3 separate regions of the Homo sapiens genome follow, and regions 1 and 2 are each linked to region 3. Evidence: fine-mapped expression QTL. A gene starts in region 3. Each other region holds a variant in brackets. All regions are shown on one strand. Distances are between the middles of the regions.

Evidence for each region. PIP is the estimated chance that this variant, and not a neighbour inherited with it, causes the effect. A credible set is the group of variants that fine-mapping cannot tell apart.
Region 1: its variant is the best candidate, but not a certain one, in a credible set for the expression of PDHX in spinal cord (GTEx, PIP 0.68).
Region 2: its variant is the best candidate, but not a certain one, in a credible set for the expression of PDHX in T cells (TOPMed, PIP 0.51).

Annotation. Positions count from the first base shown.
Region 1 is chr11:34,876,981-34,882,305 of GRCh38, forward strand. It overlaps LOC102723568 (a long non-coding RNA gene), which reads left to right. Exons shown (of 7, transcript XR_007062652.1): 7 at 30-699. APIP (APAF1 interacting protein) reads right to left here. Exons shown (of 7, transcript NM_015957.4): 7 at 5,315-5,325. Among named protein-coding and RNA genes, the nearest start is that of APIP, 37 kb to the right of the region's middle. The variant A/G (reference allele first, on the strand shown) is at 2,596.
Region 2 is chr11:34,943,035-34,948,359 of GRCh38, forward strand. PDHX (pyruvate dehydrogenase complex component X) reads left to right here. Exons shown (of 11, transcript NM_003477.3): 3 at 4,472-4,572. Among named protein-coding and RNA genes, the nearest start is that of MIR1343, 3.9 kb to the left of the region's middle. The variant A/G (reference allele first, on the strand shown) is at 2,747.
Region 3 is chr11:34,914,431-34,919,755 of GRCh38, forward strand. It overlaps PDHX (pyruvate dehydrogenase complex component X), which reads left to right and starts at 2,188. Exons shown (of 11, transcript NM_003477.3): 1 at 2,188-2,385. The coding sequence starts at 2,226. It overlaps APIP (APAF1 interacting protein), which reads right to left and starts at 1,949. Exons shown (of 7, transcript NM_015957.4): 1 at 1,798-1,949. The coding sequence starts at 1,854. RefSeq lists silencers at 1,610-1,949, 1,970-2,019 and an enhancer at 2,190-2,489.

The sequences.
Region 1 (5,325 bases), 37 kb before region 3:
CTAACGTTCTTTTTTTTTTTTTTTTCTAGGATGGCTGGGCAGGGTTCTGCAACACAGCAGAAACCCCAGGCTTCCCAAGACCCAGGATCAGAACTGTATAATGTCACTTCTGCCTCACTTTGTTGGACAAAGTATGTCACAAGATCATCTCAGTGGTGGTAAAATTATTATTATTATTATTTTAAGGCAGAGTCTCACTTTGTCACCCAGGCTGGAGTGCAGTGGTGTGATCTCGGCTGCTCACTACAACCTCCGCCTCCCATGTTAAGCGACTCTCATGCCTCAACCTTACCCATGTTAAGCGACTCTCATGCCTCAACCTTACCAAGTAGCTGGGATTACAGGTGCATGCCACCACAGCTGGCTAAATTTTGTATTTTTTTTTTCATACTTTAAGTTCTGGGGTACATGTGCACAACAAGCAGGTTTGTTACAGATGTACACATGTGCCATGTTGGTGTGCTGCACCCATTAACTTGTCATTTACATTAGGTATATCTCCTAATGCTATCCCTCCCCCCTCCCCCCACCCCACGACAGGCCCCGGTGTGTGATGGATAACATCCTAATATTCTAACATGGTGATGTTAATCACCTCTATGCATATTGTTAAAATATGTATGCAGTTTTACTAAAATGTTAGAGAGAATATGCCTGAAATTTATATAAGGAATAAAAACAGATAAATCAACCTGAAAATGTCCCTATGTTTATTATCTTGAGTAATTTCAAAATGCATGAATAAAATGCATAGATGTGCATTTGCTGAGAGGGATTCATTCATCCAGGTTGAGAAAATGCCATACAATTTAGAGCCAAAGGCCTAGGACAAATTCCCAGCTCTCCTGCTCACAGGTCTTGAGCAAGTTAACCTTTCTGAACCTGTGTCTCATTGTTAACATGAGGGTTTATTCAAAAAGCAAGTATTTTTTGATTGTCTGCTACACGTAGGCACAGGGCTATGGAAATAGATAGGACATGGCCCTGTCTCACTAGAAGCTTATGTTTTTTGGTGGATGGTGATAACACTGACATCAGGATTGCTGACAAGATGACTAGAAGGGTGAAACTGCTTGCTAAACTATAATATTTCATGCAATTATTAAACACAGTTAATGTATAAAGTGATTCATAGTTTGCTACTGGGAAGACTTACACAAATTAAAGACATTTAGTAAAGAGATATCAGAGAAGCTCAACAAGATTTTATAATCCTACTCTTCCCAATTCCTTCCTTTAAGATGTAATACATTACTGATTTATTTATTAACCACCCCATCCATTATTAACCACCCCTTCTATTCTGTCCCAAACAGGAATTTAAGACTTTCTCAGTCCTACTCCATTAACAACAATAACCAATTATGCCCCATAACATAAAAGTTAACATGGCATTCATTCTTCTTAGGCTCAATTCTCTTACAATGGAATTTGGAGGAGGTTACATAGACACTTCTTTTTACTCCTCAATCCCATTTAATATTGCTGGAGAACCAAGAGTCATTCATTCAACATTTATTGATATTTACTTGCTAACGAAGGTTTACAGTAATATCCCTTGAGGGATAAAGATTTCCTACCCAGCCATGGGCAGAAATATTCAGCACCCTGAGGATGCCTACTCCATTCTCTTGCCTGTTGGAACCTTCTTTGGGTGTCCTTTAGATCATTTATATCAAACAGATAAGCTTACAGATGGTCATCAAGGCTTTGACTAGGAGCATTTGACACCAACACAGCACAACTTACTGTTTCATAAGTTTACTCCTTACACTAATGTAGTTTTTTTTGGTGGGGGTGGTGTCTAGGGTATTTTGCTTTTCACCCAGTTTTTATCAAACAATGCAAGCCTAAATGAGCATAAGATTATACACATATAACACTTTTATGTTTAGAGCATGGGAAAGACATGTTTATTAACAGAAAAGTTTAACCATGCATGAGTAAAGAGAACAGATCCTAACTGTCTAGTGGGTTCCAATCACAATGTATTGAGTTATTTTAAAGTTAACCTAAAGGGATTGTATACCAGGAAAATAGTACTTTTCCTTTGCTTGTATTAAAAGCAATAGATGCAATTAAACCTGAAACTGACAATGAACAATTGTGAAACCAATGGAAAAATTTGCAGATGATTTAAAACACATTGTTCAAGATAAAAGGCTGGTGATGACTTGATCAACATCCTCAAAAGAAACAAAACATGATTATTTGAGGACGTGGATAAACACTACTGAATAAATGAAATAATCTTAAGTTCACAAATCACATATACAGCACTATATTTGATGGGTTATTTTAAAGGATTTTTTATGATAATTTTGACTACTGGAAATTTTTACTTAACTTTCAAAGCTCTACTGTATATATATATATAAATTTTCCTGGTTTCATCTCCAAAGATGTGGTCCTTATTGCAATAATGAAGTAGGAAAAGTAAAAGGTACTTACTAAAAGTATGAATAAAATAGTAGAACATATTAAAATTTGTTAGAACCCTAAGTCCCTAATACTCATATCAGAAGCCAAATATACTTTAAGAGCATATTTGTGTTTATAACTTAAGACCACAAAAGAATACCCATTTCAGTGATT[A/G]TTATCCAAAACTTGGTGATTCAGTGCTTATAAATTACAGATCAGTGAAATGGAAACCAAAATCTGTTTTGTTTTGTTTTGTTTTTTGAGATAGAGTCTTGCTCTGTCACCCAAGCTGGAGTGCAGTGGTGCGATCTCAGCTCACTGCACTCTCCACCTCCCTGGTTCAAGTGATTCTTGTGCCTCAGCCTCCGAAGTAGAGGGGACTACAGGTGCCTGCCACCATGCCTGGCTAATTTTTAAAATATTTTTAGTAGAGATGGGGTTTCACCATGTTGGCCAGGCTGATCTCGAAACTCCTGACCTCAGGTGATCCGCCTACTTCAGCCTCCCAAAGTGCTGGGATTACAGGCGTGAGCCACTGTGCTGGGCCTTGTAGTCCTGCTTTAAAGAAACTTGGTGGGAGAATTCAAATTGCCTCTTGAATAGTGATGTCAACATTATTAGTTCCACATCTGACCATCTTGACTAGAACTGCTGATGAGACATGGCAAAATTTTCTCAAAAGGGAGGTATTTGAACAAATTGAGATATAAAATGAAACACTCCTTAAGATTATGACTTTACCTTTCGGATTTTGGGACATTCTCTAGGGAACTATGTTATTTTGAAGTATCTCTCACAAGAAAGTTGGGTGGGACCAAAAGCCTCTAGAATCATTTGAGAAACAAATGATAGTCCCTTATTCAATCTGAGAGTGAATGGCATGTCCTGCACTTAATGAAATAAAAAATGTGTTTGATCTAGATCTCTTAGCAGTTTAATCCTGCATTCATAACCAAATTTTCCTCTTATTTAAAGAAGCTGGAATAACTGAGAGAACAACAATCACAAGGGCATGTGAAGAAGAATGCCTGCTTCCCCCTCCCTCATTCACTGAACACCTATGTGGCAGGCACTGAGGATTAGCTCCCAGCCTGGATTTGTATTCATCTTTGGACCTTGGCTCCTAGCAGTCACACAGGAGGGATCATATTCTTAAAAAAAAAGGATATTAACTAGGGGATACAGCCTTCCACCAGCTGTTCCCCTACCTCTAAAGCAGGTTTTGCAATCTTTTCTGCACTCCCAGGAAAGAAATATACAACTGGAGATGTGCTGCTGCTGCTGTATAGTTTAAATGGTTTACCTGCATGACAATTACTTTGAAGATAGCTAGGTGAGGGGTTTTTAGGAAAGGAAGTTTATATTTTGAGTGCATACATAGTATATGACAGGTACTGTGTTAAGAAGTTTACCTGTTTTCTCTTATTTAAATTCTACATATTTATTATTCCTATCTGAGCCTCAATTTTCTCATCTAAGAAAATAGGTACAATATCTATCTCAAAAGACTATTATGAGGATTAAAAGGGATTTTAAAAAACACTAATATTTATTGAACATCTACACTGGATTAAGCATTGTGGTTTGTTCCTCCACATACTTTATCTTATTCATTAGCTGCATTTTAAAATGAGGAAAATGAAATTAACCAGAGGTGGCTAAAACTATTTTTCCCCAGTGGAAGAACCTCCGCCAAGAATCCAGAAAACAGGCTGGGGGCAGTGGCTCATGCCTGTAATCACAGCACTTTGGGAGGCCGAGGTGGGCGGATCATTTGAGGCCAGGAGTTTGAGACCAGTCTGGCCAACATGGCGAAACCCTGTCTCTACTAAAATACAAAAATTAGCCGGGGGTGGTAGCATGCCTGTGATCCCAGCTACTTGGGAGGCTGAGGCAGGAGAATCGCTTGAACCCAGGAGATGGAGGTTGCAGTAAGCCAAGATGGTGCTACTGCACTCCAGCCTGGGTGACAGAGCAAGACTGTCACAAAAAAAAAAAAAAAAAAAAAAGAAAAAACAAACAAACCCAGATACAGGCAAGGTTGCAGGGAAAAGGGAACCCTTACATAGTGTTGGTAGGAGTGCAAATTAGTTCAAACATTGTGGAAAGCAGTATGGCAATTCCTCAAAGAGCTAAAAGCAGAACAACCATTTGACCCAGCAATCCTATTATTACTGGGTATATACCTGAAGGAATATAAAGCATTCTACCATAACGACACATGCACACAAATGTTCACTGCAGCACTATTCACAAGAGTAAAGACACGGAATCAACCTAAATGCCCATCAGTGACAGAATGGATAAGGAAAATATGGTACATATACACCATGGAATATTATGCAGCCATAGAAAAGAACAAGATTATGTCTTTTGCGGGAACATGGATGGAGCTGGAGGCTATTATTCTTAGCAAACTAACACAGTAACAGAAAACCAAATACTGCATGTTCTCACTTCTAAGTGGGAGCTAAATGGCAATAACTTATGACTACAAAGAAGGAAACAACAGACACTGGGGTCTACTTGATGGCGGAGGGTGGGAGGAGGAAGAAGAGCATAAAAGATAACTATTGGATACTGAACTTAATACCCGGGTGATGTAATAATATGTACAACAAACCCCTGTGACATGTGTTTGTCTATGTAACAAACCTTCATGTGGGCCCCCAAACCTAAAATTTAAAACAATTTTAAAGAAAGGACTTTCTGATTACATCATCGGTTTGATCAAGATTTGTTTGGTTAAGGGAATTTGAGTTGATACCACCTGACCTGAATTTCACAACTGATCCCAATATAAAATGAGTGTCCTGTTGTAGACCACAGGGAAACACTAAAGCTAATAGGGGAAATCTATAAAATTATTTTGACATTAACATTGAGGGATAAATTTGGACTTAA
Region 2 (5,325 bases), 29 kb after region 3:
AAGGATTCGTGAAGTTATCATGTTTTTTTCTAAAGCATTTTAATCTAAAATTCATTGGGTATGGTGCATTGGCCATGAAACCTGAGGAATGGGGATGGGAATATAAAACATTTAAGTGTCCTGTCCGTATTGTGAAGAAGCTCATAGTCTAGTAAATAGAGGAAATCACAATTTAAAAAAGTAATTAGCAGTAATATAACATTTTATATGCAATTTGTGATTTTTAAATAAATTAGACCTACTATAGGAATCTGGAATATGAACAAAATTATGTAGGTCAAGTTACTCAGAGAAAGTTATATAGCTGAAGTCGAATCTGTAGTTCTTAAAGTGTGGTTGGAATTTGAATACTGATGAACACAAATGATGATATAGCATCATTTTGTTTTTCTGTGGCTAGAGTCTGTTTTCTAGGCATCTAAGAGGTATTTAATTGCTGGGTTTACTAGTTCTATAGTTTTTCCCGTGATTATAGCAGAAATCTTTGAGGGTGTGCTTTTTTTCCCTTTTGAAGTGCAATCTGTTTTAACCACTAAAACATTTAAAGAAGTATGTAAGATGATATAATCTGACACTGTAGCTTTCTCTATGACATACAAAGGTCATTTTTGGTCTCTTCCTGCATATCTTACCAGCCTAATCTCTCGTCACTTCTCTCGCATACTATTTGCCAGTTTCTCTGAAGTTTCCTGTTCTCTCTGCCTCCAGGGCTATAAGTGTATTACCTTCTACCTGGATCACTGCCTGTTTACAGATTGTCTCCTCCTCACCTCTTCAGGCTCAGAATAGGTGGTCATTGTATTCTAGGAAGCCTTTTCTCACCTTACAAAAACTGAATTAGATGCCCCTCCTGAACATTCCCAAAGCATCCTGACCTCACCTTATCCTGCTGTATTTTCCAGTTTACTTGTCAATGGATATTAAGCAAGCTTCTTGAGGTCAGGAATCTTAAATCTTTGCTGTTATTACTGTCCACTGCTGTATCCTCAGTGCCTACATATGTATATATATTTTATATGTAATATATAAATATATAATACAAATATGTGTGTGTGTGTGTATATATATATAAAATATATTTATATAATTATTATTATTTTTTAGACAGAGTTTTTGCTCTTGTTGCCCAGGCTGGAGTGAAATGGCATGATCTTGACTCACTGCAACCCCCTTCTCCCAGGTTCAAGTGATTCTTCTGCCTCAACCTCCCGAGTAGCTGGGACCACAGGTGCCTGCCACCTCTCCTGGCTAATTTTTGTATTTTTAGTAGGGACGGGGTTTCACAATGTTGGCCAGGCTGGTCTTGAACCCCTGGCCTCAGGTGATCCACCCACCTCGGCCTCCCAAAGTGATGGGATTACAGGTGTGAGCCTACACGCCTGGCCACCCCAATACATTTTTAATAAATGTTTGTTGACTAGGGACATCTCTTTGGAGTTAGACAAAGGACCTTTTAGGTGGTAAATAAATATCATCTAACATATCAATTTATTTTTAAAAATAACTTATATTAGTGTCTCTGAACTATTTAACCTGAAGATATAACTATCAATTTGATCATCTTGGTACACAATGAAGTACTTTCTGTACTGTGAACGTTCAGAGCATATTTGTTAATTTAGTGTTTTAGATTTTCTTTCATATTCTCTTATGATGCTTGCCTGTTAATATTGCTATTCCAGCTATTTTTGGTGTGTGAGGAGGTGTATTTATATGTTACATATTTTTTATCCCCTTGTTTTTTATTCTGTTTTTGTGTTAGGGCTATCTCTTGTAAGCTACATTTACCTAGATTTTATTTTCATATCCATTTTGATAATCTCTACTTTTAATGGGTGATTTTAATCCATTTATATTTATTGTGATTACGGATACATGGGGACTTATTTCTACCATTTTTTGTGCATTTTTGTTTTTATCCTTTGCCTTTTCTTTCCATGTGCCTGCCCTCAGTTAGATAATCAACTTCTTATTTTTCCTCTGTTTTTCTAATGCTGTAGATTATATTTCTGTTTTTAAATTTTAAATTAAATTTTGCCAATAAAGTTTAGTATTATTCAGTATTTTTCTCCTATTATAAGTTGATGCAAAAGTAATTGGGGTTTTTGAAAGTAAGGTGGTAAAAATAAAATTACTTTTGCACCAGCTGAATATATCAAAGTTGTTAGCATGCCTTACCATCTAAACATTTCCTTACCTATCTTATTATTTTTTAGAGTTTGAGTTTTACACTTTTTAAACCCTCAAACATTACTTTAAAAATACTAGTAGTTAACATTTTAGTAATTTTCACAATAACTTGTTTCTTATAGCCCATGGGTTCCATCTGCTTCCACTTTTCTTCTTGATGAACTGCATCTTGTAAGAGCTTTTTAAAGAGATCTTTAATAGGTGGTAAAATTTCCTAGCCTTTATATATCTAAAGAATACTTCTCTTTCATTCTCAAATGATGGTTTGGCAGCATACAAAATTCTAGACAGTTATTTTTCCTCAGTTTTTTGAAGATATTACTTCATTGTTTTCTGACCTCTGTTGCAGCTGCTGAGAAGTGTACTCTCAGTCTTTCCATTGAGGTAATCTGTTTTTTTTCCCCTTTGATAGATTTTTAAAAGATTATGTTTTTATCGTTGATAGAATGCGGTTTCTTTACATTGTATCTAATATGGATTCATGTTTATATAGTCTAATACTCTTTTTTCTGTTTAAGTTTTTATCAAGGTATAACTTGCATAAACTTTAGGCTCA[A/G]TTAAATTTTGTATACATGTATACCCATGTTACCACCACCTAGATCAAGATTTAGAACATTCTTAGCAAGCTACACAGATCCGTATGCCCCCTGCTAGTCAGTACACCTATCCTAAATTCATTCAAAACTCTTTGATGATGAGAGTATACATCTCCAGTTCTGGGAAATTCTCAGCCACTAATTCTTCAGGTATTGCTTCTCCACCAGTGCCTCCAGTGTCTTCCCTCAGAACTCCATTAGCAAACATTGCAGCCTCAGTCTTTGTCACTTAACTGCTCTTTTCTGTTTTTTCGTTTTGTTTTGTTTTTTGTTTTTAATGTTTGTATCTTTTTGTCTGCCTGTATGAAATTCTGCGTAGTTCATTAGTGCTACCTTTCAATTTACTAATTCATACCTTCACTATTCCCTGTCTAGAATATATTCTGTTGTTTCTTTTTATTTCAATTACTTAATTTTTCATTTTTAAGATTTCTAATTCGTTTTTTTATTTCTACCTGATACCATTTTTTTTTAATTTCTTGTTCTTGTGATGGCTCTTTTACTTTCATTTATGTTTTTGGATGTCCTCAAGTACTTATTTTACAATCTTTGACAGATTGCACTAAATAAATTGCTTCTGAAAAGAATTTTTGTTACAATTACTGATTTTGTGGCTTGCTTTCTTAGCTTTTGATTTCTTCGTGTGTCTCAGAACTTTCTTGTGCAATTTACTTTTAAGTGGAAAGTTTATGTTTTAATGTCTTCCCTCCTACGCAGTCCCCCCTCGATCCTTGCCACCATCCAAGGAATTTTGCAATTGATATTGGGGATATTGGCAGATACAGCCCCGGAGCCAGAGGGTGGCTTGACTTTGTTCCTGGTACTGAGGCAGTATTCTGGTCCCCACCTTCCTAGACCCATGGTTGCTGATTAAAATCATAGTCTCAGTCAACAGGTTTTGATTGTGCATTTTATCAGCCTCACATTATGAGTAGAAGAACCCTGACTTAGCCCTAGCTCCAAATAGTGAATCTGATTTGAGTCCCCTATATCCAACAGACTACTTTTAGTTCCCTTTAATCCCCAAAGGAAACTGTTGTACCTCTTTTCCCCTGTTTGCTCCAAACCTGCTCCTAAATCCAGAAGCTAGTAAGCCTGGAACTTCAGGTCTTCCTCCATATTTTTGAGTTTCCAGATATTTTCTGTTGCAGAGAAATGATCTGTATTTGACTTCAGTTGTGTCTTTGATTTTCTCTTTTTATGCTTTATATGCTTTATTCATTTATACTGTGTGCTGCCAACAGGTTTTTTGAACTTGCCCTAAGATGTGAACCCAGAAGTACTGTTAATTGTAAAACTTTTCTTCAGGGAATATAGTCAAAATGTTTGAAAAAGTAAGGGGGATATGGAGTCTGGAATTGATTTGTTCAGAGGTGGATACACATTTGTTGCTGATGTCTTTAAGGTTGATTTCATTTTTACATGCTCAGTAATCTTTGTAATAGCTTTTTTATTATCACAAGTATAATTTATGTCCATTATAGAGCTTTTGGAAATTACAGCAAAGCATACACATACACACACACACACAAACACCCACACATAATGAGAATTACTTGTATTTCCACAACCCAGAAATAGCTACGGAATATTTTGGTATTTATTTATGTTTTATTCATACGTACATATATACATAGTAATATTTATATTTTAAAAAACAAAACAAACCCAGTCTTGTTTTGTAGGTGAAGCGGTGAGTGCTGGAGATGCATTATGTGAAATTGAGACTGACAAAGCTGTGGTTACCTTAGATGCAAGTGATGATGGAATCTTGGCCAAAATCGTGGTAAGTTTTTATTTTAATTTTCTTCAACAGGATGAAGATTTCTTGAGTGGAAAGTTCATTGTAGTAAAATTACCTTTTATTTTTGCCTCCTTATTTTTAATGTGTATTGTCTACTACATAATACATTTTTAGTTCAAGTGTTTAAAATGTTTTAGAGTTAAGGTCTAATAGCCTATTTTTCTGTATTTTCTAAATTTTCTGTAATGTGCGTTATTTTTATAATGGAATATTAGAGCTTATGTGAAAAGTAAGTGAAATAAAATGCGTAGAGCTACATATGGTAGAAACATGACTATTTAGCATTGTGTGGTATATTCCCTGATTGAGCCAACCAGCGTGTTTGTTTCTTAACTTCCAGAACCTTTACTAGGTAGTATGGTGGAGCATCTAAGACTGTGGACTCTGGAATCACCCCGCTGACTGATTCATGTTATATCTAAAAAGTTCTGCCAGTTATTAGTTACGTAATGATAAGCAAATTCTTCATCCCCTGTGCCTTTTTCTTCATGTTAAAGTAGAGATGATAATAATACCTACTTCATAGGACAGTAGGGAAGATTGAGAGAGTACATATATGCTCATCTCAAGACCTGTTACCCAATTGCTCAATAAATGTTACTTTTCCCATTATTAGAACTGTTTCCTCAGCTCTTGGTGACCATTAGTCCCCAAGTCAGTCTGTATGTTTGCCTAATAATTTGTATTGGTTGGTTGCAACTGGATAATAAGTATCCATTTGTGCCTCTGGAGTTC
Region 3 (5,325 bases):
AAACTACAATGAAATTTTATGACTTCTTAAAACTTTTCTTATTGCTGTTTTTATGTATTTGTACAAAACCAGACAAATACAAATATCTAGAGGGGCTCATGTATTTAACTAGATATGCAAATCCAGTGTGAGTAGTGGAAGCTGTGGTAACCTGGCCAGCACCCTCTGTAAAGGTGGTGTTCACTAGTAACCGCAATCCAGATCCCATGAAAAAATAAGGGCCCAATGTCACCATGTGTTCTGAGGTTTTAAAAGAAGCTGAAATGATTCTGGATTTTGAAATGTTGGCTTGGCAGGGCGTGGTGGCTTACACCTGTAATCCCAGCACTTTGGGCAGCTTAGGGGGGTGGATCACCTGAGATAACGAGTTCGAGACCAGCCTGGCCAACATGGTGAAACCCAGTCTCTACTAAAAATACAAAAATTAACTGGGTGTGGTGACATGCGCCTGTAATCCCAGCTACTTGGGAGGCTGAGGCAGGAAAATCGCTTGAACCAAGGAGGCAGAAGTTGCAGTGAGCTGAGATCACGCCACTGCACTCCAGCCTGGGCAACAAGAGCAAAACGTGTCAAAAAAAAAAAAAAAAAAAAAAAAAGGTTGGCTCAAATTTTTCATGAACATTGAGTGCAGCAAAAAAAAAACATGCCTGTCCACCAAGCTGTCTGTGGGCCATGTTTGGTTTGAGAATCCTAGTTTATTCTCGGGTCCCTTAAGGCTCTCTTTGATGCTCATTCTGATGACATTACACTAAGATTTACTGATTGAGGGTACGGACACTTCTCCATACACACTTGCCCAGGAACGATCTCCAGTTACCTGTCCTGTCTCCAAGATCTTCTCTCTCTCATCCAATCTTGCCTATGCAGCATTCTATTTTCAGAGTCGTCTTTGCTAATTTGGGGAAGTCACTTATTCAAACAAGAAAGTGGTTGACAAATGTTTAGCAATGAAATCTCCCGCGAGTTACTACTTTTTAATTAGGATTTTCAACCCTAAGAAAGATATAGATAGGAGGAATAAGATAGGGGGAATAAGGAAACTAATTTTGAGGGGTTTCCCTGCCTCTTAGGTGGGGTTTATCATATTGTGCTGAAACTGCTTATTCGTCTAGTTCTCCAGACCCTGGGCCATTTATCTTACGTATCCCTATCTCTGAGCGTGTAGAAGGCGCTCCATAAAACTGTTGGTTTGTGTAAATGACCGAAAACTACATGCAGCGTGAGGGTGGATTTCCCTTTGACTTCGGCTTAAGGAAGAATCGTTCCCATGATCATCCCACAATTCATCTAAACGGAGATAGGCAAGGAGCAACTGCTCAAAGGCAAAGCGCTGGCAGCTGAGGCACAGCTCCGGTTCGGCAAACGTCTCCCGAGTGCCAAACGTCCCCCCAAACGCCTAACTGGTCGTCAGGGCGCAGAAAAGAAGCTTGGGGGGCGCGGTCTTCGCCCCAGCTCCACTTCGGTGCTTCACGATTCCTTCTCTGGCCTGCCTTCCTGATAAATACCCGGTGAGGTCACCTAAACGCTCTCCTCTCTCAGTTATTTGCTTCTTTCCAACGTTTGGCGCCCAGCTCCCGCCATCGGAGCGCCCCGCCCGAGACCACTGATCTCCTGGGGCCTCGCAGCCTTGCTTCCGAACGCCAAGGTCGCGGTGCGCCGGGGTAGCGAACGGCCAGGCCCGAAACCCCGCCCCGCAGCTAAACGCCCGGCCCGCTACCCTGCGCCCAGCTCCAGCCGCCGGGTCCCGCCTGGGCCTCTCCTCCTGGGAATACCGGGCACCGGTGGCCCCGCCCCTACCTGCGCGCCGCATCTCCGGGAACAACAGTCTCCCTCCCGAGCATCACAGCCAGACATGGCCCAGACCAGGGACCCGCGCGGCCTCCAATCTCCGCACGGCTTTGCGCGCGGCGCTTAGCCTGGGATACGGCAGCGAGGCCGCAAATGCAATCAGGCGGCGCTGAGGGCAGCCCGGGGGCGGGGCGAACGGGGCGGGGGCCGGGGTCTGGTAAGGCCCCGCCGGCTGAGATATCCAGCGGCGCACCTGACTTCCCGGGAGGCAAGGCCAACGTGGTTGGAGGCGGGGCTGGGTTGGGGGGCGGGGGTTCAAGTCTGAGAGACCTAAAGGCACCGCTAGCGTCTGGGGGCGTGGCCAACCATGCGGGAGGCGGGGCCTTGATGCTGGACATCAGGCTGTGCTGCGGGCAGCCAGTGAGAAGGCCGTCAAGATGGCGGCCTCCTGGAGGCTGGGCTGTGATCCGCGGCTGCTGCGTTATCTTGTGGGCTTCCCCGGCCGCCGAAGCGTAGGGCTGGTGAAGGGGGCTCTTGGGTGGTCTGTAAGCCGCGGAGCTAATTGGAGATGGTTTCACAGCACGCAGTGGCTTCGGGGTGAGTGGCCGGGGCTCGCTCAGCTTCTCTGTGTAGCTGAGTGATGGGCCTGGGACAGGGGCAGTTATGATTGAGGGCCTGCTTTTGGGTGTGAAGGTGCGCGGGCTCCTTATTCCCTTTCCTCTTTCTCCGGTTGGGGTCCGCCGACTTGGCCTAATGCATGCTGTGAAGGGCTTTCTTGGCAGCTGAGAGAACTCGACTCTGCCCTAGGCCCCCTGGTTTGTATGGCTTTGTGACCTTGCCTTGGAATTTGGGTTATTTGTGAGGCGCAGAGAGGGTTCCCAAACTCTCCTCCCTCAGCCCCCTTTCCAATCAAGGCTCAGGTTTCTTTAGGGTTGTCAAACGTCTCGGACGAGAAAAAGCTGCCCAAGGTTGCCGAGATTGAAAAGCCACTGTTGGGAGTTCTTACTTATTCTCTAGGCCTCTCTCTGTTAGGAGGTGTTTTCATTGAGGCCAGTCGAGTTTTACCCCACGCCATGACTCGTGGAAGACTTAAATTTGTAAATTCCTACGGCATCACGATAGACAAAGGTCCAGGAGAATGTTTCAAGCAAATATTCGCTTGAAAGAGCAAACATTTAGGAGATAAATCATACCAAAAATTTATTATAGAAAATTGTTGTTTAGTAATGATATTGATGCAGTTAACACAATTCTTGCAGTATTTAACAGTATGCAAAATGGCAGGCCGGGTATTATTTTTCCTTATTTTGGGAGAAGGTTGGAGGGAGGCGGGGATGGAGAATAGGACTGACGTTTTTTAGTGTGACGTATTACCTGCCAATCATCGTTCCTGGCACTCTACAGAATGAATTTTAATTTAAATAGGTCTAGTAGACGTTGCCTTCATATTCTGAGCTACCTTAGGCTCAGAAAAAAAAAATCACACAAAGTCATATGGTAAGATGAGTGTATTGGGGTTCCTAAAGGTTCCTTAATGGGAACAATTTATTTCATTTTTGGTGTAATGTTTCATAACATATTCCTTGGAGCAGAGGTGCTTTAACAGTGTGTGCAGAATTCCTTCTCTTCCCTCCTCCAAGTTTGTTGAAATTAAACTTTTTTCCAGCTCCTAGAGATTCGGTCTGGTCTGGTGTGGGGCTCAGGAATCTGCATTTTACAAATGTTGGATGAGTTTTGATGTTTTATTTTGACATTTAATGGAATGAGCTTTGAGACTCACTGCCTTAGAAAATCATGGAATATTAAAAGTTTAGTATTGGATATAATCTAGGAAGAGTGCTCTTAATCTTGTTTATCAAGCAGATCCTTTTGAGAATCTTTGAAAATGTTACAGACTCTCTGTACAGAGGAAGTACCATAAATGGTCACACACAAAAATGTGCACGTAGTGGCTCACGCCTGTAATCCCAGCACTTTGGGAGGCGAAGCTGGAAGATTGCTAGAGCCCAGGAGTTGGAGACCAGCCCGGGCAACAAAGTGAGACCCCCGTCTCTACTTAAAAAAAAAAAAAGAAAGAAAAAAAGCCAGGCGTGCTGGCATCCCAGCTACTCCAGGGGCTGAGGCAGGAGGATCCGTTGAACCCAGGAGTTAGACGTTTCATTGAGCTATGATCCTGCCGCTGCACTTTAGCCTGGGTGACAGAGTGAGACCCTGTCTCAGGAGAAAAAAAAAAAAAAGTATACATAGGCCCAGTTTAATGCCTTTAGAAACTCAGTTAGGCAAGCAATCCTTATCTGCATCCTCATGATGCTTTTTTACCTATTCCCTATCCCCTAGACATATACCATGAACAACTTGTCTACCCCAGTTTGAATACCATCTGTCAGGAAGAAGGCATGGCATCTCAAGGAAAGCCAAATTAGTTTTCTAGTGCTGCTGCAACAAATTACCAGAAATTAGTGGCTTAAAACAACACAAATTCACATCTCATAGTTCTAGAGGTCCGAAGTCCAAAATGGATCTAACTAGGCTAAAATCAAGCTATTGGTAGGAGCTGCATTCTTTTCTGGAGGCTCGAGACCCCATTCCCTTAAGTTTTCCAGATTCTAGAGGTTTCTAAGATTCTTTGACTCATGGGCTTCAAAGTCAGCAATGGCTGGTTCAGTCTTTATCACATTACGTCACTCTTAATACTCCCCTCTGCCTTCTGCCACTTACAAGGACCCTTGTGATTACATTGGGCTCATCTGGATGATCCTGAATATTTTCCCCATCTCAAGGTTGAGTAGAAACCTTAATTCCATCTTTAACCTTAATTCCCTCTTGCCATGTAACAGCATATTCATAGGTTCTGGGTATTAGGACGTGAACCTTTTGAGGCATGGCATTCTGCATGTGAAGCTGTGGAAAGTATTTGGAAATACTAAGTATTTGGAAGTGTTGGACTTTTTTCCTAATACCGAGCCAAAATATATCCGCTTCTGACTTTCACCTACATACAGATTTTTGTTTTGCCATGCCGAAAACACGTGGCAATCCTTGAACTATTTGTTTTACAAACTGTGAATTTACGGTGGTGTTTTTTCTCTGAGCTTGGTAGAAACTGTAGTTTTATAAAACTAAACAACTATTTGGATTACTGTAAACTATATAAATTAAGTACATTTATTGAACTGTTTCGTCTTTCACACAAATATCTTTAAAAATTTGTCAGTCGGAACTACCTTTGGAGTTTTAATTTCCTTAAGAGGTGCTGGCAGCATTTTTATGAGCTATGACATATGCCATTTTCTTAGCACTTTCTAGAATTTCTCATTCACTTCTCACATAACCTAGTAAAGTTGGCATCATCTGCATTTAGTTGGACAAAAACACCAAGGCTTAGAGAAATTGAGTCTCCTAAAGACATGTAACTGTGTTGATGAACTGAAGTGCATGTATATATTTATATACATATATTAATTTGTTTAACAAATCTTTAATTTGTATCATTCTCTCAACAGATTTATTGAGAATGCAGAGACTATCTTTTTTACC